2 separate regions of the Homo sapiens genome follow, and region 1 is linked to region 2. Evidence: fine-mapped expression QTL. A gene starts in region 2. The other region holds a variant in brackets. All regions are shown on one strand. Distances are from middle to middle.

Region 1 (15,200 bases), 41 kb before region 2:
CAGTGATCTCAGTCTTTGCTTTTAAAGTCTTCCATTGATTGGATTGGATTCTGCTTGCCTAATGGAGGGTAAGTTGCTTTACTCAAAGTCTACTGATTTAGATGTTAATCACATCTGAAAAACAATTTCACAGCAACGTCTGGACTAGTGTTTGACCAAACAACTGGATACCATAGCCTAGCCAATTGGACACATAGTTTACCATCACATTCAACCTCTTTAATAATGGAAAAATGCAAATTAAAACTACAAAGAGATACCACTACACTTACACCAGAATGTCTAAAATTAAAAAGACAAATCATGTAAACTACTAGAATGTGGAGAAACAGGAGCTTTCGTATGCTGCTAGTTAACATGAAAGTTACTGGTGCTACTTTGGAAATCAGTTAAGGATTGTCTTAAGCTATAACCCAGTAATCCCACTCCTTAGTATTTTCCCAAAAGAAATACATGTACATGTTCTTGAATTTCGAAAGTTCTTTATTCTAGATTCCAGTCTTTTGTCAGCTATGTGGTTTGCAAACATTTTCTTTCAGTCTGTAGCTTGCCTTTAGGTCTTCTTCATAAGGTCTTTCACGGGGCAAAATTTGGGGTTTTAAATTTATTTTTAATTTTAATATATTTATTTATTTAGAGACCGGGTTATGACTGGCTAGTTTTTGTATTTTTGACAGGATGGGGTTTTATCATGTTGCTAAGGCTGGTCTTGCACTCCCAGGCTTAAGCAATCTACCCTCCTCGGCCTCCCAAAGTGCTGGGATTACAGGGTGAGCCACCACACTTGGCCAGAGCAAAAGTTTTTTATTTTGCTGAGGTTCAATTCATATATCTTTTAGGTTTAAGTCTGTGATCCATTTTGAGCTAATATTTGTATATGGTTTGAGACAAGTCAAGGTTCATTTTTGCCTATGGATGTCCAATTTCTCCAGAACTGTTTATTGAAAAGGCTATCCTTCTCTATTGAATTGTTTTTCACCTTTGATAAAAATCAGTCGAGCATGTTTGTGTGGGTCTGTTTCTGGGTTTTCTGTTCTGCCACATTTGTCTACATGTCTATCTCTCTGCCCATACCACACTCCCTTGATTACTGTAGCTACACAGTGAGATAGACTGGCTCCTCCTACTTTATTCTTTATCCAGTTTGGTTAAGCTATTCCAGGACTTGTGCCTTTCCATGTAAATTTGGGATAAGATTGTCTATGTCTACAAAGCACCTTGCTGGGATTTTAAGAGTAATTGTATTAAACTTATTAATCAATCTGGAGAGAATTGACATCCTTAGGAAGTTCAGTCACCCAACTCATGAACTTGGTTGGATTTACTTAGCTAAATCCTCTTTTATTTCTTTCAAAAGCATTTTATAATTTTAGCGTGCAAATGTTGTACATATTTTGTTATATTCATGCCCAAGTATATAATTTTCTTTGGAACTGTCATAAATGGTATTGTGTTATTAATGCTAGTTTTGAAATGTTCATTGTTAATATATAGAAATGACATTTATTTTTCTGTATTGCTATTGTACCCTGCTACCTTGCCGACTTTACATTAATTCTAGGAGTTATTTGTAAATTCCTTGGGATTTTCTAAGTAGACAACCAGGTCTTTGACAAATAAGGGCAGTTTTATTTCTTTCCTTCTAATCTTTGTGCTTTTTATCTCTCTTTCTTGTCTTATTTCAGTGGTCAGAATTTCTAGCACTATGTTGAATTAGAGTGGTGAGAACAGATTGCTTGTCTCTTTCCCAATCTTAGGGAGAAAGCATTCCATCTTTCTCCATTAAGTATTTGGTTCTTTTTTTTTTTTTTTTTTTTTTGAGACATGGTCTTGCTCTGTCACCCAGACTGGAGTGCAGTGGCACAATTATGGTTCACTGCAGCCCTGAACTTCCAGGATCAGGTGATCCTCCTGCCTCAGCCTCCCGAGTAGCTGGGACCACAGGCACACCACCCTTTCTGGCTAATTTTTGTTTTTTTGTTTTGTTTTGTTTTGAGACAGGGTCTCACTCTGTCACACAGGCTAGAGTGCAGCAGCATGATCTTGGCTCACTGCAACCTCCACCTCCAGGGTTCAAGCAATTCTCCCACCCACCTCAGCCTCCCAAGTAGCTGGGACTACAGGTGCACACCACCATGCCCAGCTAATTTTTGTATTGTTTGTTAGAGACGAGGTCTCACCATGTTGGCCAGGCTGGTCTGAAACTCCTGACCTCAAGTGATCTGCCCACCTCCACCTCCCAAAGTGTTGGGATTACAAGTGTGAGCCACCTTGCCCAGCCTGATTTTTGTATTTTTTGAAGAGACGGGGTTTTGCCATGTTGCCCAGGCTAGTTTTGAACTTCTGGGCTCAAGCAATCCGCCCATCTCAGCCTCTCAAAGTGTTGGGACTACAGGCATGAGCTACTGTGCCCAGCCTAGGTTTTTAAATAGATGCTCTTTCTCAACTTAGGATTGTCCCCACCACTCCCCGCCATTCCTAGTCTGCTGAGACTTTTTACCGTGAATGGGCATAGGATTGTGTTAATCTTTTTTTCTGCATCAAATGATATAATCATTTTTATTCTTTACCTGGTTAACAGAGTAAATTACATTGACTGATTCTGGAATATTGAACCAAACTTGCATATATGGAATAAATCCCACTTCATCATGGTGTATATAATTTTTTATATACGATGCTGTATTAGGTTTACAAAATTTTGTTGATAAATTTTGTGTCTAAATTTATAGAGATAGTGGTCTATAACTTTCTTTTCTGTACTGCATTTTCCTGATTTTGGTATCAGGGTAATACTAGCCTTATACAATGAGCCAGGAAACGTTCTTTCTTTTACTTTCTGAGATAGAGTGTGTAAAATTGGTATTAATACTCCTTAAAGTATTTTCATCTGAAGATTTCTTTTTTGTGAGCCGTTTGCTTATAACTTTAATTTCTGTAGCAGCTATGGAACTATTCAGGTTGTCTCTATCATCCTCGTTGAGTTTGGTAGTTTGTAGCTTTCTTGACATTAGCACATTTCTTCTAGGTTGGCAATAAGTTCTCTTAAGTTTTCTTTCATCTGAGAATGTCTGATTTCTCCTTCATTCCTGAAGGGCGTTTTCAGTGGCTATTGGATTTGTGATTCTAAGTTCTATCTTCAACTTGAAAAATGTTGTGCCTCTTCCTTTTGGCCTCCATGGTTTCAAGATGAGAAATCCACTGTCATTCAAACAAATATTCCTCATGAATAATGCTTCATTTCTCTCTGGTTCTTTCAATATTTTCTCCTTTGTTTGTAGTTTTGGGTGTTTATGATGTTAAGAAGTTTAATTATTTTTTTTGTGTTTACCCATTTGGGTTTGCCCTGCCAAGGGAACAGAGGATTAGCTCCCAGCTCGAGTGCTCACCCTACTAGGCCAGAGAGTTCAAGCACTCAATCAGCTTCTGCAGAGCAGAGGCTACAGGTGGGGCTAGAAGGTTCTGTTAGGCCCACTAGACTTTTGCTGGGATAGGGTGGGTATTGCCAAAAAGGTTTCCTTTTGTTGTCAGGCCAGCCTTTCCTCTGTGCTTTGACCAGGGGGGACCAGGCCTTTCTTAGAGCTTGTCTGTGCCTGCTGGTGGTTTCTGGTTGGAGGCTTCTGCAGTGCCTCATCCAGGGTAAGGGCGGGGTGGGGTGGGGGGTGATAAGGAAATCCAAGGACTCACACCTGTCATTCTTCAAGGTCTGAGGTCCCTAGGCTTTTTTTCTTCCTTCCTCCAGCTTTCAGAGTCTTCTTCTGCTGTCTGTTGTGTTATGTCCAGATATTTTACCTGTAAGAGGGAGTGTCTGGGAGGAATGGGACTCTCCATCTTGGGGGAACCAGCAGTCAACACTCAGGTTTTAATGCACTTTCCTCTGTTTGTCATATTTCACTATTAAAAAGAGTTAACAGGCAAGAAATAAGATGGCCATCACACTTGAGAAGGTTGGGAGCCCTGACTTGGTACAAACTACTTTTTGATCTGACATCTAACAAATGATGTCTTACAATATCTTACAAAAAACATACGTGTACCATGCTGATCCTTCTGGATAGTCCAATCTAGGGAGGTTATCTAACCAGTAACTCCTCACAAACCAGGGATAGCTCTCCAGCACTGGGTCCTCTGGCTAATGGCCCCCACCAAGTGTCAGACCTACCTAAGCCCCATTCTTGTCTCCTTTTCTTTTTTCTTTAAATGTGCCCCCTCACTTCTCTGTAATATTTCCCATGCCCTTTTCATACCCTCTCCTCCTGCATGGGCTTTTGGATAATCTTTTGGATAATCTAACCATGACTGGTTATTGAACACTCACAGTGTGCTCTGTACAGGAGAGGGGTTTTACCTAAGCCCCCAGGGTTTTTGAGGAGGCCTTCTCTGCTGCTTATGGTGGGCAAAGAATGGGGTACCACCCCCCTCATTCATCCCAGAAGGCCCTAAAACTCAGAACAAACTATTTGCAATGAATCTAGGAGTACAGGATGATGAAGATGGGGCACCCGGCCCCACCTTAGCTCCATGAAGTGGCCTGAGCCAGGTGTAAAAGGAGCTGAATTTGCTTACATGGTGGCTCCAGAACCAGCTTTTGCCTCACTGTGCCTCCCTCTGCCTGCTGGCTTGCTGCTTTGTCTTTCTTCTTCGCCTCTCTTGCCATAGCCCCTCAGCTTGGCTCTGCAATACTCCACGTTCCTCACTTCCCTGTGCTTTCATTCCCTAAACGCCAGTCTCTTCCTCTGGGGCATGGCCCTGGGGCCTCCCACTGAAATTGACCCAATAGTCCCATAAATAGTTTTTTGGATAAACGTAGAAATTGACCCTTCTGGTTCTAAAGTTTGAACCTTCCTTTTTTTTTTTTTTTTTTTTTTTTTTGAGATGGAGTCTCACTGTGTCTCCAGGCTGGAGTGCAGTGGCACACTCTTGGCTCACTCCAACCTCCACCTCCCGGGTTCAAGTGATATTCTCCTGCCTCAGCCTCCCGAGTAGCTGGGACTATAGGTGCCTGCCACCACACCCGGCTAATTTTTTGTATTTTTAGTAGAGATGGGGTTTCACCATGTTTGCCAGGATGTTCTCCATCTCTTGACCTTGTGATCCTCGTGATCCACCCACCTGGCCTCCCAAAGTGCTGGGATTACAGGCGTCAGCCAACACACCTGGCTGAACCTTACCTTTTTTTTTTTTTTTGGAGTCAGGGTCTCCCTCTGTCGCCAGGCTGAAGTGCAGTGGTGCAATCTCGGCTCACTGCAGCCTCTGCCTCCTGGGTTCAAGCAATTCTCGTGCCTCAGCCTCCCGAATTGCTGGGACTACAGGTGCCCGCCACCACACCTGGCTCATTTTTTTTGTATTTTTAGTAGAGACGGGGTTTCACCATGTTGGCCAGGCTGGTCTCGAACTCCTGACCTCAAATGATCCACCCGCCTCAGCCTCCCAAAGTGCTGGGATTACAGGCATGAGCCACCGCCTCTCAAAAAAAAAGTATCATCAAAGAAGGGAAACTCACCAGATCAACACATCCAGACAATGAGATACCCTACATTGTGACTGCTTCCTTGCCCCTCCGTAGTTCCTGTTTTCTTACACACTGTTATCTTTCTTCCCTGGTGTATAAACCCCTAGTTTTAGGTGGATGGGGAGATGGATTTGAGACTGGGCTCCCATCTTCTCAGCTACAGCACCTGATTAAAGCCTTCTTCCTTGGCAATACTTGTCATCTCTGTGATTGGCTTTCTGTGCAGGGAGCGGCAGGACCTAGACAGAACCTGGGTGTTTCGGCAACACCACCTGCCTCTGCTTCCGAGGGCACACTCAAAAAGGAGGGGACTGGGCCCGTGCATTCACCTCAGTGTCTCTGTTTCACAAAAGGAGTCGTGGAAATCAGAATAATCAAAATCTCAGCTCACAGAAATGAGCGAGGCTGAATGCAAAATTAAAGTGGACAGGGCCCATCAACAGCCTGAAAGGGGCTTTGTTATTCCTTCCTAGGGAAGTCATCACCTCTCAGAGAAGTGTCTGGCTGAGTAATGACCAAACATGAAAGGTCTCTGTCCACTCAAGGCATGGATCATACTAAGGCCTGGTGATCAGTTTAAAGGAAATGTATTTCCCATGGCTGATGTCCACAACGTTCAGCTTCCAAGGGTTCAGGAAGGACTTATATTTCACCCTGCCATGACATGGGTCAAATATGAGGCCTCTTTGAAAATCCAGGGAAAATTAGCTCCTGGTGACATAGGATGCACTTCTTAGCTCCTAGTTGCCCATCTGGAGTTCTCTGTTAGGCCCACAGAATCAGCAAACTCTGTGTGGAATTAGGCGATTGCTCCTCAGTAGTGGCAGTGCAACCGGAGGGAAATTATTGTTCCATTCTGACTTGTGAGTTCCTATAAATCTTAGCTTTAAATCAAATGCTCTGTGAGTTGCTACAGGAGTTTCATTTAACCCACCAGCCTGTGCAAGAGGTGAGAGGTGGCCCGACTGTGAAATCCCAGAAGACACATCTAGTTGGCCAAGGCCTCTGCTCTCAGCTGGAGGAAAGACTCCCCCACCCCACCCCATGGGGAGGGGAGAAAGCGCATGGATGGAGTGGGATGAAGAATGGAGAGTGAGGAGAAAGCCCTTCCATGGTGTAAAAGTCAGGGCATCCGCTGAAGCCTCTCACACATTCGACCGATGTCACCCCAAGGAGCAGTTTCACCAGACAGGGTGCTGAGTCTAGCACAGCATCTGTTTGCAGACGGTGCTTGAAAGGACTGAGGTTGGGTCCTGGAGTTCTAAAGTTCTAACCCTTTTCTTCTGTCTTATTTCACCTTCCTGCAAAACAAAGAGGGGGTGGGGAGGGACAAAAAAAATCGCTATGCAGAAGTTCACTCCGGAAAATGCCCTGAAATAAAATCAACAAGATTGATGTGCAGGCAGACAGGTAATAACTTTAGAAGTGAAAGAAATCTCCAAAGATCTATGACATTTTTAACAAAACAGGGGGAAGGTGGGCAGCGCTCAAAACTGCAGAGCGGTAATTACACCCACAGGAAGTCTCTAATGAACTTGAAAACAAAGCTCCGAAGAAAGGGAAAGAAGATAACTGCAGAGTTCTGTTTACGTAACCGTAGGGGGTTTGAACACCAAGAACTTACAGCTCCTGAAACGCGGTGAGGAAATGGGAGGGAGGGCAGCGAGCGTTCAGAGTTTTGGCAAAAGGTCAAAGAGAGTGAACGGATGTGGGGGGAGGGGAAGAAGGTGGCGGGGGGTGGGTGGTAGCGCTCACGGGACAAGAAATTGAGCAAACAGAAAAGCTTAGTTGCTGAAGAAAATACTTAGAGGAAGGAGGGTTCTCTTCGCTGGGGGCAAAGTGGGGCAGCTTTATCCCGCCTGTGGCCCGGAGGTAGGCGTTGGCGCAGGTCTCGCCGGCGCCCGCAGCGCGTCCAGGTTGCCACCGGCAGAGCCCGGCCCACGTGGCCGACGCTGAAGCGGCGCTCTCCGTTCCTCCAGCGGGCGCTTCCCGGCCGAGCTGCAGGGGGTGCACACAGCAGAACTTCACTGCGCCCTCCTCGCCGC[A/T]CGTGGGGCCAGGCCGTGCGCTAGAGACCCGCGGACTCGGTGCAGCCCGGCGAGGCGGGCAGAGCCGACTGCTGGGTCTGAGCGCGCATCCCCTGCTGCTACTGATTGAAGCCCAGTCCCCGGTGCAACAGTAGTAAGAGGGGGCCTCCAGGGAAGTGATTCCGTCGTAAGGGGAACGGGGCTGATAACCTTATAAGAAGGCTGGAGGAAGCTGTTTCCTCCCTTCCGCTCCTTCTGCAGAGCGTTCCCGTCTCTACCCCACCCCTGCCACATCAGAGCCCCCATCTGTGCTGAGTCAGCCAGCACCCATCAAGAAGCCCCCATCTGTGAGGAACAGGCCCCCCTCACTGCTGACACCTTGATGGTGGACTTCCAGCCTCCAGCACGGTGAAAAGGAAATGGCTATTTATAAATTACTCTCTAAGGTGTTTTGTTGTAGCAGCAGGAATGGACTTAGGGACCCGGAGTTCTTACCATTGCCCAATCACAATACCCTTAGACTCCAGCATCTCCACACATGGCGTCCCCTCGTGGAGCGCTCCGTGTCTTACCATGAGTCAGTGAGACAAAAGGTGCAGATGACACTGATGGTGGTATACATGCACACTGTGTTAGTCTGTGTACTAGTTATGAGTATATATACCAATTATTAAACCATTTTACCAAGAAAATAAAGACTTGGGAGATGTTAAAAAACTGCCAAAGTCGGGTGTGGTGCACCTGTGGTCCCAGCTACTCTGGAGGCCGAGGCAGAAGGACTGCTTGAGCCCAGGAGTTCAAGACCAGCCTGGGCAACATAGTGAGACCTAGAAAACAAACAAACAACAACAACAACAACAAAAACTGTCAAGAGACAGAACCTGGATAAGAAGTGGGTTATATAAACCAAAGTGGTCCAAAAATTCAGATGCCTGAGGGGCCCCAAGCTGGTCCTAGGTACTCAGGAAAGTACAATTCTAGAAGGAGCCTTCTGCTTAACAGCCTGCTGGTCATCCTCAAAGAGGCCACCACTCCCCACTCCTTCTCAGGGAGCCTCATCCCATCAGACAGTGAGGCCCATTCTTTCATTCATTCAGGTCATATTTACTGTCTATCCAGAATGCACCAGGCACTGTGCTAGGTGCTACTATACACATTATCACATTTGGCAGGGTATGGCACACCTCTTCATTTAAAAATAACCTTTCCAATGACATTAACAATGGGCTTTACTTACGTGAAATTCACTTAAAATAGAATTCTAAGGAATTTTACGTAGCATACCATAATTTGGCTAGAGGAGAAGGCTGGGTCTTCAGTGGGAAAATGTTGAAGGTAAAGCACTTGAGCGCATGGCCTGCTGGGGAGAGTGCTGAGCCAGCTGGCTGTGCAGGGGAGGATTGAGGAAAAGGCTGAAAATGAAGGCTGAGGATCAGTTTCATGAGCTCTCGAATCCAGGTTGATTTGAAACTGTTCTTTGCATAGGCAGAACATTCTGAGGTAGCAAACAAAAGTTAGAGTCAAAGAATTCTTTCTAAAGAATGATGTCAAGGAGGCAGTAAATCTAAGACTCACCCACACACTCGAACTGGCACTCAGTAAATGCTTACTGAATGAATGAATCAATCAATCCATCAATACAGAGATAGCAACCAGGATCCTTGTCAAGTCAAGAGGGTTATTAGTATAGTATTTCTTTAAAATAAACAGCCTTATCTGTGAGCAAAATAAGAGGCTGCCCCTGAAGGCTAAGGATGTCTGCATCCATTTGAGAGAAACAGCCTTTCATTGTGCAATGATTAGGCTTAAGTTGCTGGCAAGGCTGGAGACAAGGATAGAGATGAAAGGCTGGATGATGGCTGCCGGGGGGCCCTGTCCTGCAGCTGTTCCAGCCAGGAAAGGAGAGGGGAACAGAGGAGACAGCACAGGCAGCAGGCAGGCATCCCAGGCCGAGGAAGGAGGGAGGGCTCCCCAGGGTCACCCTGCTCTACTTTTGGAGCCTGATGCTGTAAAGTTTGCCCGGCAGGGACACACATGCTGCAGAATCTCCTCTTTCCCCTCATTGAGAGGACCAGGTTTTCCCTTGGAAACGGACAGACACACACTGAGCTGCTGCTTCCCAGGAGGGCTGAGGCACCCTTCAATAACTTCAGGCATCAGTGTCAGCCACATCATGGTTTCCCACCTCCAGATTCCCATGCCTTCCTTACCCTAATGAAGTTTCTCCCATTTACACATGGTCCCTCATCATCCCTCTCCTGGATGCTTTACTAGCTTTATGGAAGGAACTTGGAGGAGTGGCCAAGGCAGAACCCAGCAGCTGCGGCCATGGGGGTGAATGGGGGCTGGGATGGGGAGGGACTCCATAGACTCAGTGTTGACATGAAGGAGGAAAGGGCCCAGGTGTCCTATTAACAGTAATAACAATAATCTTGCCTTAAACCTTATTTATTTATTTATTTATTTTATTTATTTTTGTAGTTTAGAATGAGGTGAGGGCTAAAGAAATAAACAATCACATAGGCCGGGCACAGTGCCTCACGCCTGTAATCCCAGCACTTTAGGAGGCTGAGGTGGGAAGATTGCTTGAGCCCAGGAGTTTGAGACCAGCCTGGGCAATATGGCAAAATCCTGTCTCTACTAAATAAATAAATAAATAAACAAACAAATAAATAAATAAACAATCACAACTAAAGTCGTGACAGCCAGATTCACACATGCATTCTCAGTTGGCCCTCACAGTCCCTGACAGCCACACAGATCCTGAGAGTGTGAGGCTGCTCTGGAAGACAGGAGTGGGGCTTAGACCCGATGACCTCTAAGCTCTGTTCTGCTGCTTTAGGTCCAGGGTCAAGGTGTAGGAGGGGCAAGATATGTGTGGGGGAAGGGCAAGAACCGGGCCTACTGACTTAAGCTACTCATTTGGGTGCATGTCTGCCACCCTCGGAGGGCCTGTGGAATAGGTCAGAGCACTCCTCTAAGTGAGGGCTGTTGGGATCGGATGCTTAGGGCACAGCAGAGGAGATTGAAACAGCATTCAGCACTGTCCAGATGTTGATGCAAGGACTGTCACCCTCAAATACAGTGTGTCAGCCACCATGAGCCACTGTGCAGGAGGGCCTGAGGGTGGCGTGTGGAGACAGGCCTCCCAGCAACGGGGAAGCCAGGGTGCAGCAGCAGGGCCTACCTTCTTGGTGTAAGGCTCTTCCTTCAGTGGAGGTAAGGGCCGTGGCCCAGCATGCACTTTGTACTTTCCATTAGCCCTGAGGCTCAGGTGTCAATTATGGTTTAGCATTTAAAATCGAACAATATGTTTTTATTTTATTTATTTCTTTTGAGACAGGGTCTCACTCTGTCACCCAGAGTGGAGTGCAGTGGCATGATCATGGCTCACTGCAGCCTCAACGTCCTGGGTTCAGGTGATCCACCCACCTCAGCCTCCTGAGTAGTGGAGACTACAGGTGTATGTCACCTGGCCCAGGTAATTTTTTGCATTTTTTGTAGAGACAGGGTTTCACCATGTTGCCCAGGTTGGTCTCAAACTCCTGGGCTCAAGATGTCTGCCTGTCTTGGCCCCCCAGTGTGCTGGAATTACAGGCGTGAGCCACCTCACCCTGCCAGTATGTTTTTAAACAGTACCAGGAAAGCCTTGAGCTCTTCCCTGCCTCAGCAGGACACATGCATTAACTGGCAGAGCCCAGTGCTCCCTCTGAGGATGGATCTGTGAGTAGCAGCTCTGGGAGAGACAGAAGTAGGGGACTGGCAGGGACTCAGAGCCTGCAGGGAGAAGGAAGACGCATGGCGGGGAGGCCAGCATGCCAGGCTGCAGAGCTGCCGCCCACCCACCCCGCCCACTCCTGGAGCCCAGGCCCTCATCAACTCTAGGTCTTGCTCCTGGCCTAGGTCCTGCTGAGTCCCCATAGTCATAACGACGCTTACGCAGCACTGCTTCCTTCCAGATACTTTGTCCACGTCAGTGCCCAATAACCCTGTGAGGTCTGTCACCACTTACAGGAGGGGAGCTGAGGCCCAGGAGGGCTTAGGCCCTGCCCAGGGTATCATAAACAGAGGGTGGATGGACATGCCAGGCTCAGAGCCTGTGCCTTCATGTCAGGCTCCACAGGCTTCCTTGGCTCCATGCTGCCTTCAAAAGAGGAAAGTTACTTTTGTCTTCAAAATCCAGTCTTTCCTTATGGCTTCAAAAGCTCTTCCCTTGAAGACTCCACAAAGGAACAAGATGTCTGGGGTCTGGCTGGGCCCAGGAGACCTCTGCAATGCCTCCAAGATGAGGCTAGTCCCCCAGGAGACCCACCCTCCTTCAAGAAGTCTTCAGAGGTCCTTGTTTTTTTTTTTTTTTTTTTTTTGAGACAGAGCCTCACTCTGTTGCCCAGGCTGGAGTGCAGTGGTGCAAATCTTGGCTCACTGCAACCTCCGCCTCCAGGATTCTAGTGATTCTCCTGCCTCAGCCTCCCAAGTAGCTGCTATTACAGGTGCGAACCACCACGCTCAACTAATTTTTGTATTTCTAGTAGAGATGGGATTTCACCACGCACCAAGCTGGTTTTAAAATCCTGACCTCAAGTGATCTGCCCACTTTGGCCTCCCAGAGTGCTGCAATTACAGGTGTGAGCCACCACACCCGGCCAATGTCTTCAGAGGTTCTTTTTTATTTTTTGAGACGCCCACCACCATGCCTGGCTAATTTTTTGTATTTTTAGTAGAGACGGGGTTTCACCACATTAGCCAGAATGGTGACCTCGTGATCCACCACCTTGGCCTCCCAAAGTGCTGGGATTACAGGCGTGAGCCACTGCACCCGGCCACTTCTAATGATTTTTAAGAAGTATTTGGCAGCTCTGAATTGGCAAGTGTGGAAATAAGACTGAGAGGAGCAGCTGTTTCTAAAAGATCATTTTGAGCTTTTTCCCCACCTAGAGGGTGCCGAGCAATCAGGATGTGAGGGGCACAGTCTGGGCTGCTGCTTTCCCCACTTGAATACATGACATATCCAGTGTATCCTACACTAACGGTGCTTCCTCACCTTAGAGCTGGGAGCTCATGACTGCATAGCCAGCCTTTGGTCCCCTTGCTTCAGAGGGAAGAGGGGCCCAAGGGACAGGCAATACCTCAGACACACTCTTCTAAAAGCAAAAACGGTGGCCATTAAAATAATGCGCTGTCCAGGTGTGATGGCTCTTATCTATTGTCCCAGCACTTTGGGAGGCAGAAGCAGGAAGATCGCTTGAGCCTAGGAGTTCAGGACCAGCCTGAGCAACATAGCAAGACCCCATCTCTTAAAAAAAAAAAAAGCTAGGCATGGTGGTATGAGCCTATAGTCCCAGCTACTCTGGAGGCTGAAGCAGGAAGATTGTTGAGCCCAGGAGCTCAGGTGACCTACAATCATGCCACTGCACTCCAGCCTGGGTGACAGAGTGAGACCCTTTCTCTAGAATAAACAAAATTAAAATTTTAAATATAAAATGTGCTGTCTTCCATGCACTGGATCTTTCTGAGCTGCTTTTCTGTGGTGGTGCTGAGCCAATTCCTCTTGCTGTCTCTTCCCACCTGCTCTGAACTGCAAGCGTTTCTGCTCCCCCAGGGAGGGCAGGCCTTGGTGAGGATGAAGGGGACTACTAACAATTACACCAGGATGAGGACATCAGCTGGGACTGTCCCAGGCCAAATGGGACACGTCGTCCCCCATCTCTGTGAAAAACTAGAAATCTAGGAATTAACCATGTGGCTGCCAGAATCTCTATGTGAAGCTCTAACCTATTGATGTAATTTTTTTTCTTTTTTTTTTTTTTTCGAGACGGAGTCTCGCTCTGTTGCCCAGGCTAGAGTGCAGTGGCGTGATCTCGGCTCACTGCAAGCTCTGCCTCCCGGGTTCACGCCATTCTCCTGCCTCAGCCTCCCGAGTAGCTGGGACTACAGGCGCCCACCACCACAACCGGCTAATTTTTAGTAGAGACGGGGTTTCACCGTGTTAGCCAGGATGCTCTTGATCTCCTGACCTCGTGATCTGCCAGCCTCAGCCTCCCAAAGTGCTGGGATTACAGGCGTGAGCCACCGCACCCGCCCTATGTCCTTGTTTTTTATAATGGACTTTTTCCAGAAAATATTTTTGGCTCCCCAAAATATGTACGTCAAGTTATAAATCATATCTTTACTACTCTGCTAACCCATTATATATAAACACAAAAACAGATCTTTTTAAACATAAAAAGAATAGAAACTCCACTCCTTAATATATACCCAAAGGAACTGAAAACAAATGCTCAAAACAGATACCCCAGTGATTAGAGCAGCATTATTCACAAAGCTAAAATCAACTGAAAGTCTATCAACAGTTTAACAGTTAAACAAAGTGCAGTATGTCCACACAATGGAATATTATTCAGCCTTAAAAAGGAAGGAAATTCTAATACACACTACATACAACATGTGCAAGCCTTGAAAACCCAAGTGAAACAAGCCAGTCACAAAAGCACAAATATTGTATGATTCTATGTATATAAATTATCTAGAATGGTCAAATACATAGAGATCAATTCATAGAGGGAACGGTTACCAGCAGCTGGGAAGAGGGGACATAAGGAGTCTCTGCTTAATGGGCAGAGGTTCCATCTGGGGTGATGAAATATTTTGGAAGGAGTGGTGATGGCTGCACAGCATTGTGAATGTAATTAATCCCAATGAATTCTATACTTAACAGTGGCTAATATGGTCAATTATATGCTATATATATAGTTTTTGCAATCATAAAATAAGTTAAAAAAGAATATCAATTTAAAATATTTAGATAAACAATGAAGTTAAAGTTCTAATATTTTCTTCCCCTCTTCCAGTGAAGGTTTGTCCCCAGGTGCACACGTCCAAGACTAGGGCCCACAGTCCTAACCAGCCGGGCCAAGCCTCCCACTACCTATCACCTGGAAGGACATAGGATGAAGTGGACACCCTGAGGTGCCTCTTTGCTGGTGGACATGCCTGTCTCCAGCCACGTCACCTCCAGGTTCAGGCATCAGTCTTCAGAGGTGAAGCTTGAAGGCTAAAGGCAAGAGGGGAGTTGGCTAGACCAGAACCCCCTCACTGCTGTAATTTTCTCACTGTTAGAATTTTTGCAAAGGTGGTTTCAACCCCAACATCTTCTGTTCAGGAATCTACCTGCAAAGTTTTGAGATTTTCGACAGTAGCCGTGAAAAGATTCAAAGAGACTGGTAATTCTTTGCAAACTTACACCAGCTTCTTACAGACTTGAATTGATATTTTGTCTTTTTATAGAATAAGGGTATAAAGGAAGTTTTTGTACATTCATGATAACATCTAGCTTATCTTCTTGAAACCAACAACACCATTTTACCCAGAAATAAAAGCAGGTGGGCCAGACATGGTGGCTCACGCCTGTAATCCCAGCACGTTGGGAGGCTGAGGCGGGCCTATCACCTGAGATTGGGAGTTCGAGACCAGCCTGACCAATATGGAGAAACCCCGTCTCTACTAAAAATACAAAATTAGCGGGGCGTGGTGGTGCATGCCTGTAATCCCAGCTCCTCAGGAGGCTGAGGCAGGAGAATCGCTTCAACCCGGGAGGTGGAGGTTGTGGTGAGCCGAGATCATGCCATTGCACTCCAGCCTGAGCAACAAGAGTGAAACTCCGTCTC
Region 2 (15,200 bases):
GGTCCCTGGTGACCTAGGCAAGAACAATCCCAGAGTGTAGGGAGAGCAACAGTTCCGGTAGACTGAAGAGTGGATACAACCATCTCACTGCAATTCAGCATGACCCATAAAAGACAATCACCATCATTCAGAGATGCACACTGATACTTGCCGAGGCTGAGGACTTAGCCAGCTTGCTCATGCCAGGATGTTCAGAGCAGTGTCTTGTGTTTTTGTTTGTTGTTGTTGTTGCTTTTTGAGACGGAGTCTAACTCTGTGGCCCAGGCTGGAGTGCAGTGGCGCGATCTCGGCTCACTGCAACCTCCGCCCTCCGAGTTCAAGTGATTCTCCTGCCTCAGCCTCCCAAGTAGCTGGGATTACAGGAGCCTGCCACCATGCCCGGCTAATTTTTTGTATTTTTAGTAGAGACGGGACTTCACCATCTTGGCCAGGCTGGTCTTGAACTCCTGACCTCGTTATCCACCCACCTCGGCCTCTCACAGTACTGGGATTACAGGCGTGATCCACCGTGCTCGGCCACAGAGCAGTGTCTTAACACCAGGTCTTCAGGCTCCAGGGCCAGATATCCAGCCAGCCATCCTGCCTCTTTCTATCTGTTAGGTATGCCAAAGGTTGGAAATGCAGGTGTTCTCTGGACATTTCTAAACCCTTACTGACCATCATCTTTTTTTTTTTTTTTTTTTTTTTGAGACAGAGTCTTGCTCTGTCTCCAAGGCTGGAGTGCAGTGGCGCAATGTCAGCTCACTGCAGGCTCTGCCTCCTGGGTTCACACCATTCTCCTGCCTCAGCCTCCTGAGTAGCTGGGACTACAGGCGCACGCCGCCACATCTGGCTAATTTTTTGTATTTTTAGTAGAGACGGGGTTTCACCGTGTTAGCCAGGTTGGTCTCGATCTCCTGACCTCGTGATTTGCCCACCTCAGCCTCCCAAAGTGCTGGGATTACAGGCGTGAGCCACTGCGCCCAGCCATACTAGGACATCTTATGCTTCAGACCCACTGGCTAGAGGTTTTGTTTAAACAGAATGAGGAGTTTAGGAAAGTTTCTGGCAACAGAGACTAGTTACACACTTGAATCCCATTTTCTGCTCCTGGACACACAAAAACACTGCACTCCCCACCCTTACAGCAGTCAGCCTGGAGGCATGTGAGTAGATGCTAGCCAACTGAAGTGGTGTGCCACTGCTGGGCCTGGTCCTGAGCATCCCATGTGCTCATCCAAGCCTTTGCTCCTGTCTGACCTGAGAAGAGGCAGATGGTGGGGCCACAGGCTGGAAGGAGTTTGGGTTTCTGAGTCACTGCTGGCAGGAGAACCATCTGGAAAAGCCACCTAGCCCGCATCAGATGTGACATGAGCAAGAAACGAGCTATGATTGTATTATGCCACCGAGACTTCAGGGTTCCTGTGTTACTGCCACACTGTTGGCCTGTGCAGATGGATGTTGCTGGTAAGATCACTGATTCAAAGGCACAGGACAACAGCACAGCAGGCTTGGGCTCCATGCTCATGGGCAGGGGGGAATGGAAGTAGAAGTTTCCACATACTCTCTCCCAGTCAGTGAATCCCCTAGATCCCGTCTGGGGTATGTATTTCATTGTTGAAGTCCATGGCGCATACCGTTAATGGGCCTGCTTAATGAGGCCAGTGTCCTGGTGGCCACTCACCTATCTGGAGCCTTTCTTATTTACTTTGAGCTGCTCCCAAGGAGTGTGGTTGGACATTACCAGCCACCTTGAAGGCATGAGTAGAGGAGAGCTCTCTAGTGTCCAGCCCAGTTTGGGATTGTGAGAAACTGTGCTGGACTTAAACGTACATCCCTGCACCTGGGGTGTAAAGATCCCTAAACTGTGTGGCTTAGGGTGGAACCAAGACCCAGACTCAGACCTTCCTGGGGTTCAAACCTGGTCAACACCAGAAGCCTGGCACCTATCCCCACTGTTAGGCAGCAGGGAACTCTCACTCTTCACTCCCTCTTCCCAAATCAGAATCTTTCCAGTTAGTCAACACTTCATTTCCTTGGGGAATCATTTTATACTATGAATGATACCCCAGCAGAACTGATATGAAAGCTAAAATTGCCATAAAGCAGACTTTCTTAAACCTTGCTTATCTAGAAAAGAATAAATTGCATATCCCAATTTTTCATAATGAGAAACTGCAAATTAATTAGTCTTTATTAATAAGGCCTGGCTACAGTGGCTGAAAGACATGAGGGTTTATTCTTTCCCATGAATGAGGCAGGTAATTTGGGCCTGGTGGGGCAGCTGCACAAGGGGTTGGAGCTCCTTCCGTCCTACTCTGATGTCTACCCAGCTGTCATGTTCACACTCCAGGTGGCAGCAAAGGGGACGCATGGAAAGGGGCAGAACAGCTTCCTCCCAGATGAGTTGGCAGCCTTTTTGGAAGTCTCTGACACCTGCTGTGGCTCATTGGACAGTTCTGAAGCACGCGGCAACATCTAACTGCAAGGGAAGCTAAGAAATGCAACCATTTAGCCAGGCATATTGCTCTGAGCAGAGCTGGGAGATTCCTGCTGGAGAAGGGAGGCTGGGAAGAGGTGGCAGGCAGCAGCTCTGCCAGCCAGGGTGAATTCCTGTTAAAATGCCTGTTTATTCCCATTTTGGCTTTCTTTTGCTGACCACAGCTTTGGGGATCTTTGGACAATGGGTTCATATCCATAGCAGGTGAAGAGTAAGGGAGAACTAACATGCCCCCTGCAAGAACACATTAGCCCTTGTAAATCAATCGTTCCTCTGCCTTACAGATTACCTGCAAAATGTTGTAATAGGTGTGATTTTTAATTTCATTAATTTGGCCAGGCACACCTGTATTCCCAGCAACTTGGGAAGCCAAGGTGGGAGGATCACTTGAGCATAGGAGTTTGAGGCTGCAGTGAGCCGCAGTCTCACTACTTCACTCCAGCACAGGTGATGGAGCAAGACCCTGTCTCTAGAAAAAAATCCATTGATTAATAAATACTAATAAATAAAACCCAATGCGGCCGGGCACGGTGGCTCATGCCTGTAATCCCAGCACTTTGGGAGACCGAGGCGGGTGGATCACGAGGTCAGGAGATCGAGACCATCCTGGCTAACATGGTGAAACCTCATCTCTACTAAAAATACAAAAAAATTAGCCAGGCGTGGTGGCGGGCGCCTGTAGTCCCTGCTACTCGGGAGGCTGAGGCAGGAGAATGGCGTGAACCCGGGAGGTGGAGCTTGCAGTGAGCCGAGATTGCACCACTGCACTCCGGCCTGGGCGACAGAGCGAGACTCTGTCTCAAAAAAAAAAAAAAAAAGATATATATATATATATATATATATATATATATATAACCCAATGCACAGATAATTTTTTATGTTTATACTATGGACCCATACTTCCCTGCTTTTAGATATCCACTGGTTAATAGCATGATAATCCCATGACCCCATAATCCCCTTTCCCCGGAGCCATGATTTATGATAGAAATATGTACTTGCCTATTGGAAGGATGAATTTGTTGATTTTCAAATGAAGATATCAATATTTCATATTTCTAAACTCAGTTTTCTCCCCTCTTAATTTTTCTGGTATAGTGCAAATAGGTTTTATAATACTCTTGTGGTTTCCTTTATTAGAAAAACATAGTGATGTGTACTGTTGAGCTAAATGACAATATTACAGATCGTAAAAAAGATTTAGTATTTGAACCTTTGCACTATTCAAGCTCGTAAAGCCATTCTCAGCGAGGATCAATTTCAATTATGTTTTCACTGCTTACATAATGGAGGTGGTGGGGGCCGTCTCAAACCCTGGCTGGGGAGCAGAGAGAGCTTAGGCCACGGGAGAGGGCATGCCTTTGCCCTGCACGAAGCTCCTGGCCTGAAGCTTTCCTTCATCCATGGAGGTGGTTCATTATGGTCCTTCCTTTATGTGACCAGAGTCATTATTGACAGCTGTGTTCCAAATCCAGCTTGCATTTTTAATAAGGTGTCCATGGGGGGAATCCTGGGCAAATGGGAAGTGCTGTGGTCTGGGTGTCTGTGTCTCCCCTGAAATTCATATATTGAAATCCTAAGCTCCTAGGTGATGGTATTTGGAGGTGGGGTCTTTGGGAGGTGATTAGGTCATGGAGGCTAGAGATGGAGCCTCATGAATGGGATTAGTGCCCTTGTAAATGACACCCCAGACAGCGGCCTCACCCCATCTGCCATGGGAGATGACCAGACACTGGGTCTGCTGGGCACCTTGATCTCGGACTTCCCAGCCTCCAGAACTGGGAGAAACAAATGTCTGTTGTTGAGGCCTCCCAGCCTACAATATTTTTGTTATAGCAGCCCAAGCTAAGGCAGGTAGCCAAAGGAAAGCCAGGCTTTTGTTTAATCAGTAGCAGGGGGTCAGTGTTCAAAGTTTAGTTAAATAACTAAATGCAGAATCTCATTCTCCAATAGGGTACAATCAACGCAAAGCCCAGCTCTTTCCTCTGCCTTTGACCTGGAGCTGTCCCATCTGAATTTATGCTGGGGGAGGACAGATCACCCAAGCTTGACAATGGTTCACATAGCATTTCATCTCCCGGTATCTAGGTGACACCCTAAAGGCCCTCCCTCTGTGCAAATACTCCCCCAGACTTAGTCTCTCCCTTTCCTCATTTTGCTAAGGATAGTGGCCCATTTTACTTCTAAAACAAGTTTCCATCATTTTCAAATCATGATATACTTGGAATAGAATCCATACCCTTTTGTCCAGCCCCCACGTGGAATGTGGTCTCTACCACCCTTCCTGGGCTGGGCTCAGCTGCCTCCCAGGCCAGCTCCCTGCTTTGTGGCCACAGTTTCCTGTCAGTTTCCTCAGCACACCTGGCTCTGGGCCCCACAGGACCTTTGTACAAGACCTTTGGTCCATCTGAAACACCTTCTGCCCAACTCTGCAGGACTGCCTTCTTCCTTCGCAAGTCTTGGTCAACTTTCCTTCTCAACAACCAAAGCACCGCCCCTCACACCCCCTTACCCCCACATCAGCTTGCTGGTGTCCGCCGTATCACCCAATTCCATTCTCATATTTTAGGCACATTTGCAAGCCTAGGAAGGTGTGGTTCCTAAGAGAGACTTTAAATCACAAATATTTATATTCCTGTTTTTTCTGCCTATGGAACTGTGACCACATGAGTAGCGGGTGCTCTGAGATGATACTTTAAAAACTAGCTGGCCAGTGCTGAGGAGGGCAGAGCCCTGTGAGGTTACCACTGACAGAGCTGGGGACAAACGCATTTTAGGAAAGCAAAGAAGCCAGGCCAGGTCAGTCCTGGGAGCCACTGTGCCACGAGGCAGGGGCAACGTTCTTCCAGAAAACAGTCCCAGTTGTGGGACAAATTTGAAGCTGCAAACTCTACACTATAGACAGAACTGTGATCATTTTATTCTGAATAACTTAGTGGGTGTCACCATGAGCATAAAAACATTTCATCAAATATACACACACTGTGTTAGGATTTGAGCAATGTCATTTCCTGGAAGGTTTTCTGAGATAGACTTCACCTGCAGGTAACCAGAAGTTTACTTGCTGTGGTGAGTTGTTAGGTGAAACCAATTATATGTCAGGGCCCAGCTGCCAGACAGGAGCATCTTGCTTTTGGAGTGTTTGATTCCCCTGCCACTTTTTGAGACAGTAATTAGTAGCAGGAAACTGTCACCAGCCAACTGATAATCCCCTCACATACAAACACAAATAATCCAGGCATCCTGTGCACCCTTGCTTATCACGGCCAAGAAGTACTTTTCATCTCCATTTCATAACTTGATTACTCTATGCCTCCCCAAACAGAGCATAAGCTTCTTGAGGCCAGCGATTTTGACTGTTGTTCTCATTGTGATCTACCCAGCAACTGGAACAGTACCGGCACGTAGAAGACGTGACGTGCATTTGCTGCATGAATAAACACATGAACATGATGGCATAGGAGAATGCTACTTTGATGGGGTACATGGGTATCAAGGATTTTCTTTCTGCTCACACAACATGAGATTTGTAATTAAGACACAGATTTAAGGTGAGTCCGGTGGCTCACACCTGTAGTCCCAGCACTTTGGGAGGCTGAGGCAGGAGGATCACTTGAAGTCAGGAGTTCGAGACCAGCCTGGCCAACATGGTGAAACTCTGTCTCTACTAAAAATACAAAAATTAGATGGGAGCAGTGGCACATGTCTGTAATCCCAGCTCCTCGGGAGGCTGAGAATCGCTTAAACCTGGGAGGCAGAGGTTCCAGTGGGCCAAGATCACGCTACTGCACTCCAGTCTGGGCGAGAGAGCAAGACTCTGTCTCACCAAAAAAATAAAAGACACAAATTTAAAATCACGATGACCAGAATATGGCTCTGTTTCACTCACTGGAAATTATCTGATCTGCAAGATAATTCTTACCAACCCCTGAGTGTTTTTTACAGGGATGGGAGTCCATTGACTCTCTAAAATCACTTGCGAAGTTTTGTTGCTGCGGAGCTGAGAGCTGGGGCCAGCCTGCCTGTTGTGCCCCTCCATAAGACTCCTGGCCATGCATTTGAGCACACCTCATGAAGGGGGCAGGTGGCTGGCCGGGCTGTTATGTGTAGCAAGCATGTGTTCTAAATTACAATTCATTTGTTCTAAATTACATTCATCATTTCTAAATTTGTTCTAAATTTAGAACACAGCCCCAGGAGACCCCCTTCACCCAACCATGTTCTGCAGTCTTGATTCATTTTCTTACTTAAAAAATGCTATTGATAACCTGTTGCTATTTCTGCCTCAGTCTCTTAGGAAATGTATAAAACAGAAAATCACATATCTTCAAAGCTCTGGAGCTTTACATGATGAAGATAAGCAATGATTTCTCATTTCATTCTTTCTCTTAATCAACTGAATTAATTATATACTCATTTTCATTTGGATATGATGACTAGGCAGACTTCAAGTATAACCATCCATAACCTTGCTTAATGCCATGATGTTTGGATTTTTTTCAAAGAGAGGAAAAAACTCCCTTGGCTTCTATTACAGCATCCATATTTTGTGCCATTTTAATTTTTTCTTGTGTCTTTTTTCTCTCTCTTTGGGAAATATCAGTATCATTCCTTTTGGTAAATTTTAAATCACCACTTAATTTCCAATAGAAAAAATGTTTTAGTTACACCTAAAATAATCCCAAACCTCAAACACACTGTGAGCACACCAGAAAGTAAAAATTATATGGAGTAGAACAGATTAGCCCAGAATACCTCCCATTCATTTTCCCAGGTTCCTAATTTAATAATTTCAGTGACTTTAATTTATCACAGACCCTCAGTCTGAACTCGGCATGAGCAGGGTAGACAACCAAACCTGAAAATTCAAGTTAAAATTCTTGTTTGGGAGCTTATATTATCTAGATTAATCATCCACAAGGATCAAGTCAGCTAAGTAACTCTGGTTCAGCTTAATCTCTGTGGAGGCAGAATTAGTCCTTTACAGTCTAGGTCCTTGCCCCAGCCCCATACATTTCTGTCTGCTTTTTTCTTTTCTTTTCTTTTCTGTTTTGAGACAGATTCTCGCTCTGTTGCCCAGGCTGGAGTGCAGTGGCACAATCTCGGCTCACTGCAACTTCCATCTCCTGGGTTCGAACAATTCTCCTGCTTTAGCCTCCACACATGCCACCACCGGCTAATTTTTGTATATTTTTTTTTTTTTTTTTTTTTGAGACGGAGTCTCGCTCTGTCACCCAGGCCGGACTGCGGACTGCAGTGGCGCAATCTCGGCTCACTGCAAGCTCCGCTTCCCGGGTTCACGCCATTCTCCTGCCTCAGCCTCCCGAGTAGCTGGGACTACAGGCGCCCGCCACCACGCCCGGCTAATTTTTTGTATTTTTAGTAGAGACGGGGTTTCACCTTGTTAGCCAGGATGGTCTCGATCTCCTGACCTCATGATCCACCCGCCTCGGCCTCCCAAAGTGCTGGGATTACAGGCGTGAGCCACCGCGCCCGGCCTAATTTTTGTATTTTTAGTAGGGACGGAGTTTCACCATGTTGGCCAGGCTGATCCCAAACTCCTGACCTCAAGTGATCTGCCCGCCTCAGCCTCCAAAGTGCTGGGGTTACAGGTGTGAGCCACGGAGCCCAGACTGTTTCTTTCTTAAGCTCTTACTTTCTCATGTGTGAGTTACCTTGTAGGTTTCCAAGGCAGAGGGGACAAGATGGAAAAGGAGAACACAGAAATCTAGCCTGGAGGAGCTGCTCTGTTCCTGTATTTATCTGTGTAGGTGTGAATGAGGGAGAAAATGACAAGAGAATGACATTATTTTAAGGCTGTTTTCCCCCCCCCAATCATTTACTTTTTGAGAAATAATTGCCCAATACTGAAAGGTATGTCCTTTCAAAATGTTGATGTTTCAAATGGCTTCCTAATTACCTAGTTATACGGGGGGTGTGTATGGTTATCTGAAGTTACATGGGTATACACTGGTGGTGTGAGGTGTCCAGAGAGAGGAAAGGAAGAGCAGTCCTGGTGGCTCAAACCCTGAGGGATGTGCGGGGGATGGGTGAGAATGTGAACAGACATGTTGGAAGCTGAATCCGTGCAGTGGCACCCATGCCTGTAGCCATCTCAGTGGGGGGTCCTTCTACGAACAAGCTTTGATTAATGATATTTTAATGCTAGTTTAGCTTTTTAGCACTCCCACGCCTAAAGGCTCTGATAGAAGCAAGGCCCCCACCCCTGCAAAAAAAAAAATCCATGATTTTTACGCATTCCAACAGATCTCTTAAGGGGCAGACGGCCGGAGAGCCAGGTGTGCCAGGGACCTATGGCAGCAGGGCTGAACGTGCCCGCTCCAGCCTCTCCAGTGCTGGGAGAGACCTCTAGATGGTGCAGGTGAGTTTGCAATGAGGGAAAGCCCCTCGGCAAGGACTGAGTTTCCAAACTTGCAGACAGGGCAGGGAGCGGTCAAGGAAGAGTTCCCGGGAAGCCCTTTAAACGGAAAGGAAGCGGGGCTAGTGTCAGAGAGGTGTGCCAGGTCCCAGGCAGCCCTGCTGGCCCCTAAGGACATAGAGTACCTGCTTCTGAGAGGGCTGCCACGGTGGCCACCTGTGAAGCCTGTCACCCAGAACTGGATGGTACCTGACTTTCTTCATAGACCCATCTTCTGCTGGGACTGAAGCTGACCTCCAACAGAAGCCAGGTAAGCCCTGGTCCTTTCCTCTGGTTTTCTAAACTCTTCAGCTGTGGCCGAGACGGAGGTGTCATGGGCTGGGAGAGAGGCTGGGTGCATTTTTGAAATGCATGTCATTTTTGGGTTGCGTTTGAACAAGCTTTACCGATTGCAGTATGTCTGCGCTACCAGTTCTAAGACCTGAGATTGTTCCTTTGTTTTAGAAAAACATCAGAAACCCTGTTTTGCTGTTGGTTGCACATTTGGTTAGGGAGACAAATTCTGTGTGTGCTTCACAGGCTTTAAGATTTGGGCTACTGAAGCAACGGGTTCCTCCAGGGAGCGTGAAAAGTATGTTTCTCAGGTTTGCCCCTGTGCCCGGCTCACTGGGGAAGGCAGGCGCGGCAGGGACTCTAGCTGGGCTCTGTACCTGCCTCCAACTCTGCGTACCCGCTGTGACCTAAGAGACCTTCCAAGTGGGGTTTCCAGTCGTGTCTGAGACCCCCCATATCCTGGCCTCTGTGTTGGTGGCGGGGGAGCGGGGAGAGGGAGAGAAGGAGGGGAGTGGGTACCTATTTGTGATGATTGAGGTTTTCATTTCCAGCCAAGAGGTTCCTCTCAACACTCTGACAGACCGTGGGGTGGGTTGGGCTCCTAGACAGGAGTCGGCTCTGATTCAGTCGGCTCTGATTCCCAGCCTCCTGCAGCAGCCAAGCTTTGAGATGTCAGCTCAGGGAGAAGCGGGTGGCTGGGCAGGGAGGTCAGCAGGCGAGGTTCCCACTGGGTTTCCCTGCCCATGTTGTGCTGGGTCAGCAACAAGAGGGACAGTTAAAATCAACAAGCAGGGCAGATGCCGGTCAGTGGGCAATCCCACACAGCCAGGGGTACACGCATGTGAGGAGACGTACGGAGAGACAGGAGCACCACCGTCCTCTTCCCCAGTCCCCAGGCCACTGCTCTGTGGCTCTCAAGTGGCATTTTTGAGACACTTTCTAAGCAAGAGTGAAAGTGTAACAAAGAAGTGAAGAGCCATAATAGACTGAAGGAAAAAAGGGATCCAGGCATCTAAAATAGAGAATGTTTCTTGCCTGGCTTAATACTCTGAGATTTGTAAGTCATAGCCACTTAAAACCTTTAAAGATACATTTTGACAGAGGCCACCAAAAAGAGAGTGACTCTGGTCAAGGCTTGGAAATAAGCGTTCGTTCCGATGACAGTCCACGTGTACCCTTCACGGCTGGGAAAGTTTGGCGATCCTGGTGGCGATTGGCCGGGGGTCTCCACTGTACCCCTCCCCATCCCTAAGTGGGCCAGGCTGTGCTGTGGGAGGATTAATTTGTGACAGCACAGTTGGAGGATAATCTTGGAAGGACCAGTCTTTGGGAGGAAAAAGTAAATACACTTTCCCTGAAATGCTTGATTTTCACTCCCTGGCCACTACCTGGTTTCTTGCTTTTGTGAGCTGGACTTTCATTTTGTTGGGCATACACATTTGTGAAGCACAGACATGTCAGGGGCTCATCTTTGTTTCTCAGGCATCATGGTACCCTCTTGCCTAGCCCAGTGCCTGCCATTGGGCGGCAGCCCAACATTGCTCCGGAGTGCAGACAGACCTGGTCTTACCCCATCTCACGGAGCGCAAAACCTACTTGCCTCTGTTAAATGGGGAGCCTCTTCTAGTCAAAGTTCCTCAGGTCTCATAGGCCCACAGATGGAAGCTGGGTTACCTGACGCTCCTTTCTGGGTCCAAGTGAGTGCGTTTTGTGGTTTCCAAAGAATAGAATTTATTCTCAAGGAAATGCCCAGGAACCCAGCTTCAAAGACTCAAGCAAATCTGAAATTCAAATACAGGAGCTGTAAACAGGATGGTGTTTGGCAGACAGCCTTGCTGCTTAAGTGGCTCAGCCCCTCAGCTGGGCTCAGTTTCCCCTCACCCTCCTCCTAGCCTGCCTAGTGACTGCCTGCATGCCTCAATTATCCTGGATGACACCTGCCTGCTCGTTCCTTTGATGCTGTTTGAGGCTCTGCCTAGGTATTCCACCCACCAATAGTATCATTAATTAACTTACATTAAGCCCACTTAGCACATTAGATCAATTAGGGGACAAAAGCCCCAGCCAGCCTTTCCTGTGAGTATGCCGCCTCCATCTCAATGCCTACGATTCTGTCCTTACTGAATTCGTATATTGCAGGAAGGAATTTTTTTTAAGTCCCAAAGATTACTATTTTCCTAAAAAATAAAGCAAGGAAACATAAGCTGATGTCTAATCATTTAACCTCTGCTGTACATTTCTATGGCACTTTACAAAGCGTTGTCATGAATGTCTTCTCTATTTTCCCAATAAGGAAATTGAGGCTCAGAGAGGTTCACTGTCTTGCCCGAAGTCCCACAGCTCATAATGATTATGGGAACACCAAGAACTGGTCTAGGTTAGCACTCAGTATGCCCAGGCCTCGTGTGGAGCCTGTCACTCATAATTGGAGGGGCTGAGACTAGAACCTGTGTCCTCTGCCTCCAACACTGACACATTTGCCCCCACAAGGAGATGGTGCAATGACAGCCACCAGGGATTATAAAAATAAGAGTGGAGTAAGCAAACACTCCCCCTCCTGTATCTTAGTTTCCCAGGGTCGTGTCAGCCCCAGACACACTCATCTCCTGTCCTCAGAGGCGAGGGATCAAGAGGAAACAGTCTCAGTTTTGTTCTTTGTGAACCCTCCTGATAAAAGTTAGAGTGTTTGTAGTTTTTATATAGTGAAAAAAACTGTCAAATATAGGCCATTGTAGGTGGTTCAGTCTAAGATAGTCTAGTAACTAAAAAAAAACTCAAAATGGCATTTGGGGCTCAGGCATCCCAACAGCCCACTGGCCCCTGAGACAAATGAGCTTGACCATATTTAATTTTTCATCATTGCCCTTAGAGTGTCACAAAGCATTACCCAAGGATAGCTGACCCTGTACAGTCAAAGCTATGAAAAAAGCTTTGCCCTGGGTCTTGGCAGGGATCAGCCATTCATTAGGTCATGTATTAAGGGATCCTACAACCTGAAGTGTCTTCAGTCATAGCACACCCCAAGGACATCATGCACTCCATGAAAATATGTCCAATGAATGAATGAATGAATGGGCTCCTTCATCCTTCTTGTCAGAGAAAGGTCACCAATTGTTCCAATGACACAGTTAGGGACAAGGGGGCTGCTCAAACATCAGCATCCCCTAAGTCAATAAGCAAACAAATCCTAGTTAGCAAAGCTACCCTCTCTGGGGGCAGAGACACCTGTTATTTCTCAAATGCTGGATGCCCAAGGGTGGCAAACACACTGTTTGGACCCCAGGAAGGAGCAGACACATGTGGGTGAAGCTGGAGGTCCTGCTTCCTTGCCCAGATCCTCTTGCCCAGACACACTCTGGAAATGCCCATCATTTTATACACCTACGTACACATGTAACCAGCCAGGATGCCTTTGTTTTCCATTTCCGAGAAAACAGAGGACTATGGAAAACAGGTGGGCCGTAAGGAGCCCTACAGAGGAAGATGCACCTGTGGCGGTAGCCCTGCCTGCACCACCCTGCGAGCTCATGCCAGCTTAACTCACTTCACGGTCAATCAGACCTACTGCTCCAAACACAGTAGGAAGGCGCGCCTTCACTTGTGAGTCGGACGAAATCAGCAATGAGGGCAATAACAACCACAGTCACGTTACTCTTAGTAACAGCCCTGAGGCCCGCAGTGTAGCACAGAAGCCAAGCTTAGTGGTGGGCTTAAGGCTGATGTTGTTAACTGATACCATTCAATAGCTAGATATAGGCAACTAAAAGGTGAGCCCAAATACTGAAATAAGATACAGTATTAGTCTCCTGAAAATAAAAAAGAGTTGATTCTGCCAACAACACCTTAATCCTGAGAGAAAGCACTTTCTTAGGATAGAAGAAAGACATGCAAAACCAGACTGCAAGCAAAAAATGAGAGGGCATGCACTGTTTTGACGACTCTCAGATGGTTACCAAATCTCTTCTCTTAAAACTTCCATTTGCCATATTTCCAATCCCATGTTTGCACAGAATCCTGCATGCACAGGAGGAAGCAGGCAGGATTTCAAGTTGGTTTTAGTGCACATTCATTCATTCAGCAAATGTTTTCTGGGCATCTGCTACATGCCAGGCACCATGCTGGGATGTAGTGAGTAACACAGTGGTCCCATGGGTGAGGAGAGAGAACATCCCTGCACTCACAGAGCTTAGATTCTGCTGCAGGGAGAGAAGCTATAATGCATAAATCCAGCGCCATGAAAAAAAAACAAACAAACTAGCAGGGCAGGTAGAAAGAAGGTGCCCAGGGTAGTAGTGGGGGCCTCTTGGGAAATGAAATAGTTGAGTAAAGACCTGGATGAAGTGAGGGAGTGAACCAGGACACCCGCAAGAAAGGAGGCCCTGGGGTGGGGTGAGCTGGAGATGTCCCAGCACCAGCAGGAAGGCCATGCTGCCGGAGCAGAGGGAAAGGAGGGTTGAACAGAAGGAGAGGAGAGGAGAACCAGGAGCCTGAGCGGGCCGTGGCAAGGGGGCTGGGCTCTCATTGAGGGTGATGGAAAGGCAAACAGAAGTCAAGTCAGGGCGGAAGTTCAGCCATGGTGGCTCACGCCCTGTGTTGTTCTGGGACAGTCAGTGCCCACACCACCCCATCCCATGCCACGCCGGTTGCTGTAATTTGCTTCTAAGGAGCTGGGTCTCCAAGTAGCCTCTTCCTGGGAGAGTTGGCTTGGCTGAGGTGCAGGGCAGGAAGGGCAGGCAGCAGGAAGGGTGGCAGGAGAGGAATGATCCATTTTCACCAACACCTGCTCCCTTGGCCGTTAACACATGCCAAAGGGATCCATTCTGAGAAAAATTATGAAGACCCTAACCTGAAACACATGATTACACTTCCAAAAATCTGAAAGTAGATTATCAAGACTCAATAAGTTGTGCAGAGAAAGAACACTTAGCAACAGACATCGCCGTCGCCCCCCTTGCAGCCCTGCTGGGACACTCCCACAGTCGCAGAGCCACTGGCCAGCTGCACTCGCTTCCTCCTCACTTGGAGAGAGGGACACCTTCCAGCATCGGGTGTGAGATGGAGTGGGGACGCAGTGGCTCTCTGATGGCTCAGTTGGCAAAATTGTTGGAGAACGGGTTCAGAGATCACTGATGCCCTTGGCCAGCATGCCAGACCTGTTCCTGTTGACTCCATATGGCCTTTGGAGTTGGAGAGAAGGTGGCTTCCCTGCCCCGTCCCGCACGGAGCCACCAGCACCTGGAAAGTTTGATTTCCTTCCTCGTATCTGGAAGATGCAGGTCGATTAGGAGGGAAGTCAGTCTGGAGGAGGATACCTGTCTCTGGGAACTCCAGGGCAGTCAAGGCAGACAGATGGATCACGAGGGAGGAGCTGGAAGGGCGGGATTGTTGACTTGATGTCTGGTTGGGGTCTGATGAATACAGGAAAGTGGAAGGCCACGGGGAATGCTCCAGTGGGATGCAGATGTCTATTAAGTTGGCTGATTTTATTTACCCAGTTAGATGTGGTTTTATGGTTTACTGTTTGGATTGAGGCTCTGTGTCCTTGGGTAATAAACATTACCTCTGGCCCCAAAAAATCCTAATCCTTAAAAATATGGAAATGCACTGAGCATCCCTAAAAGGTACTTTAGAGGAGTCTCAAGGTTCATTTTCTTTAAGATTTAGTCCTTAATAAAGACTCAAAATGGCTGTTCCTAAAGCCTCCTGTCCATAATGAAGAAGATAAATCAGAGTGTACACTTTGGGGATGTGTTTGTTGACATGCGGCATCCTCTGCAGAAAGCCTGTATCTCCAAGAAGCGTGGCCAAGGGAGGGCACTGACAGCTGAGTTTAGAGTGGGATTTGTAAGCAGCACAAACTAATTGTGCATCGGTAGATTTGCAGAGTGTGGTTTTCTGTTGATGGATTTCTTTATGGGCAATAAAATCTCCAATAAGTACCATTTACATTCAGCAGAACTCTTTTTGAATTTTAGCTCATTCTTAGAGAGATTTGGAGAGAGAGAGACC

Evidence for each region.
Region 1: its variant is fine-mapped to the expression of EDAR in whole blood (TOPMed, PIP above 0.99).

What each region holds. Positions count from the first base shown.
Region 1 is chr2:109,023,943-109,039,142 of GRCh38, reverse strand. It overlaps a transcript of RANBP2 not described here. Among named protein-coding and RNA genes, the nearest start is that of EDAR, 42 kb to the right of the region's middle. The variant A/T (reference allele first, on the strand shown) is at 7,558.
Region 2 is chr2:108,982,928-108,998,127 of GRCh38, reverse strand. It overlaps EDAR (ectodysplasin A receptor), which reads left to right and starts at 8,908. Exons shown (of 12, transcript NM_022336.4): 1 at 8,908-9,168. It also overlaps a transcript of RANBP2 not described here. RefSeq lists an enhancer at 9,934-10,435.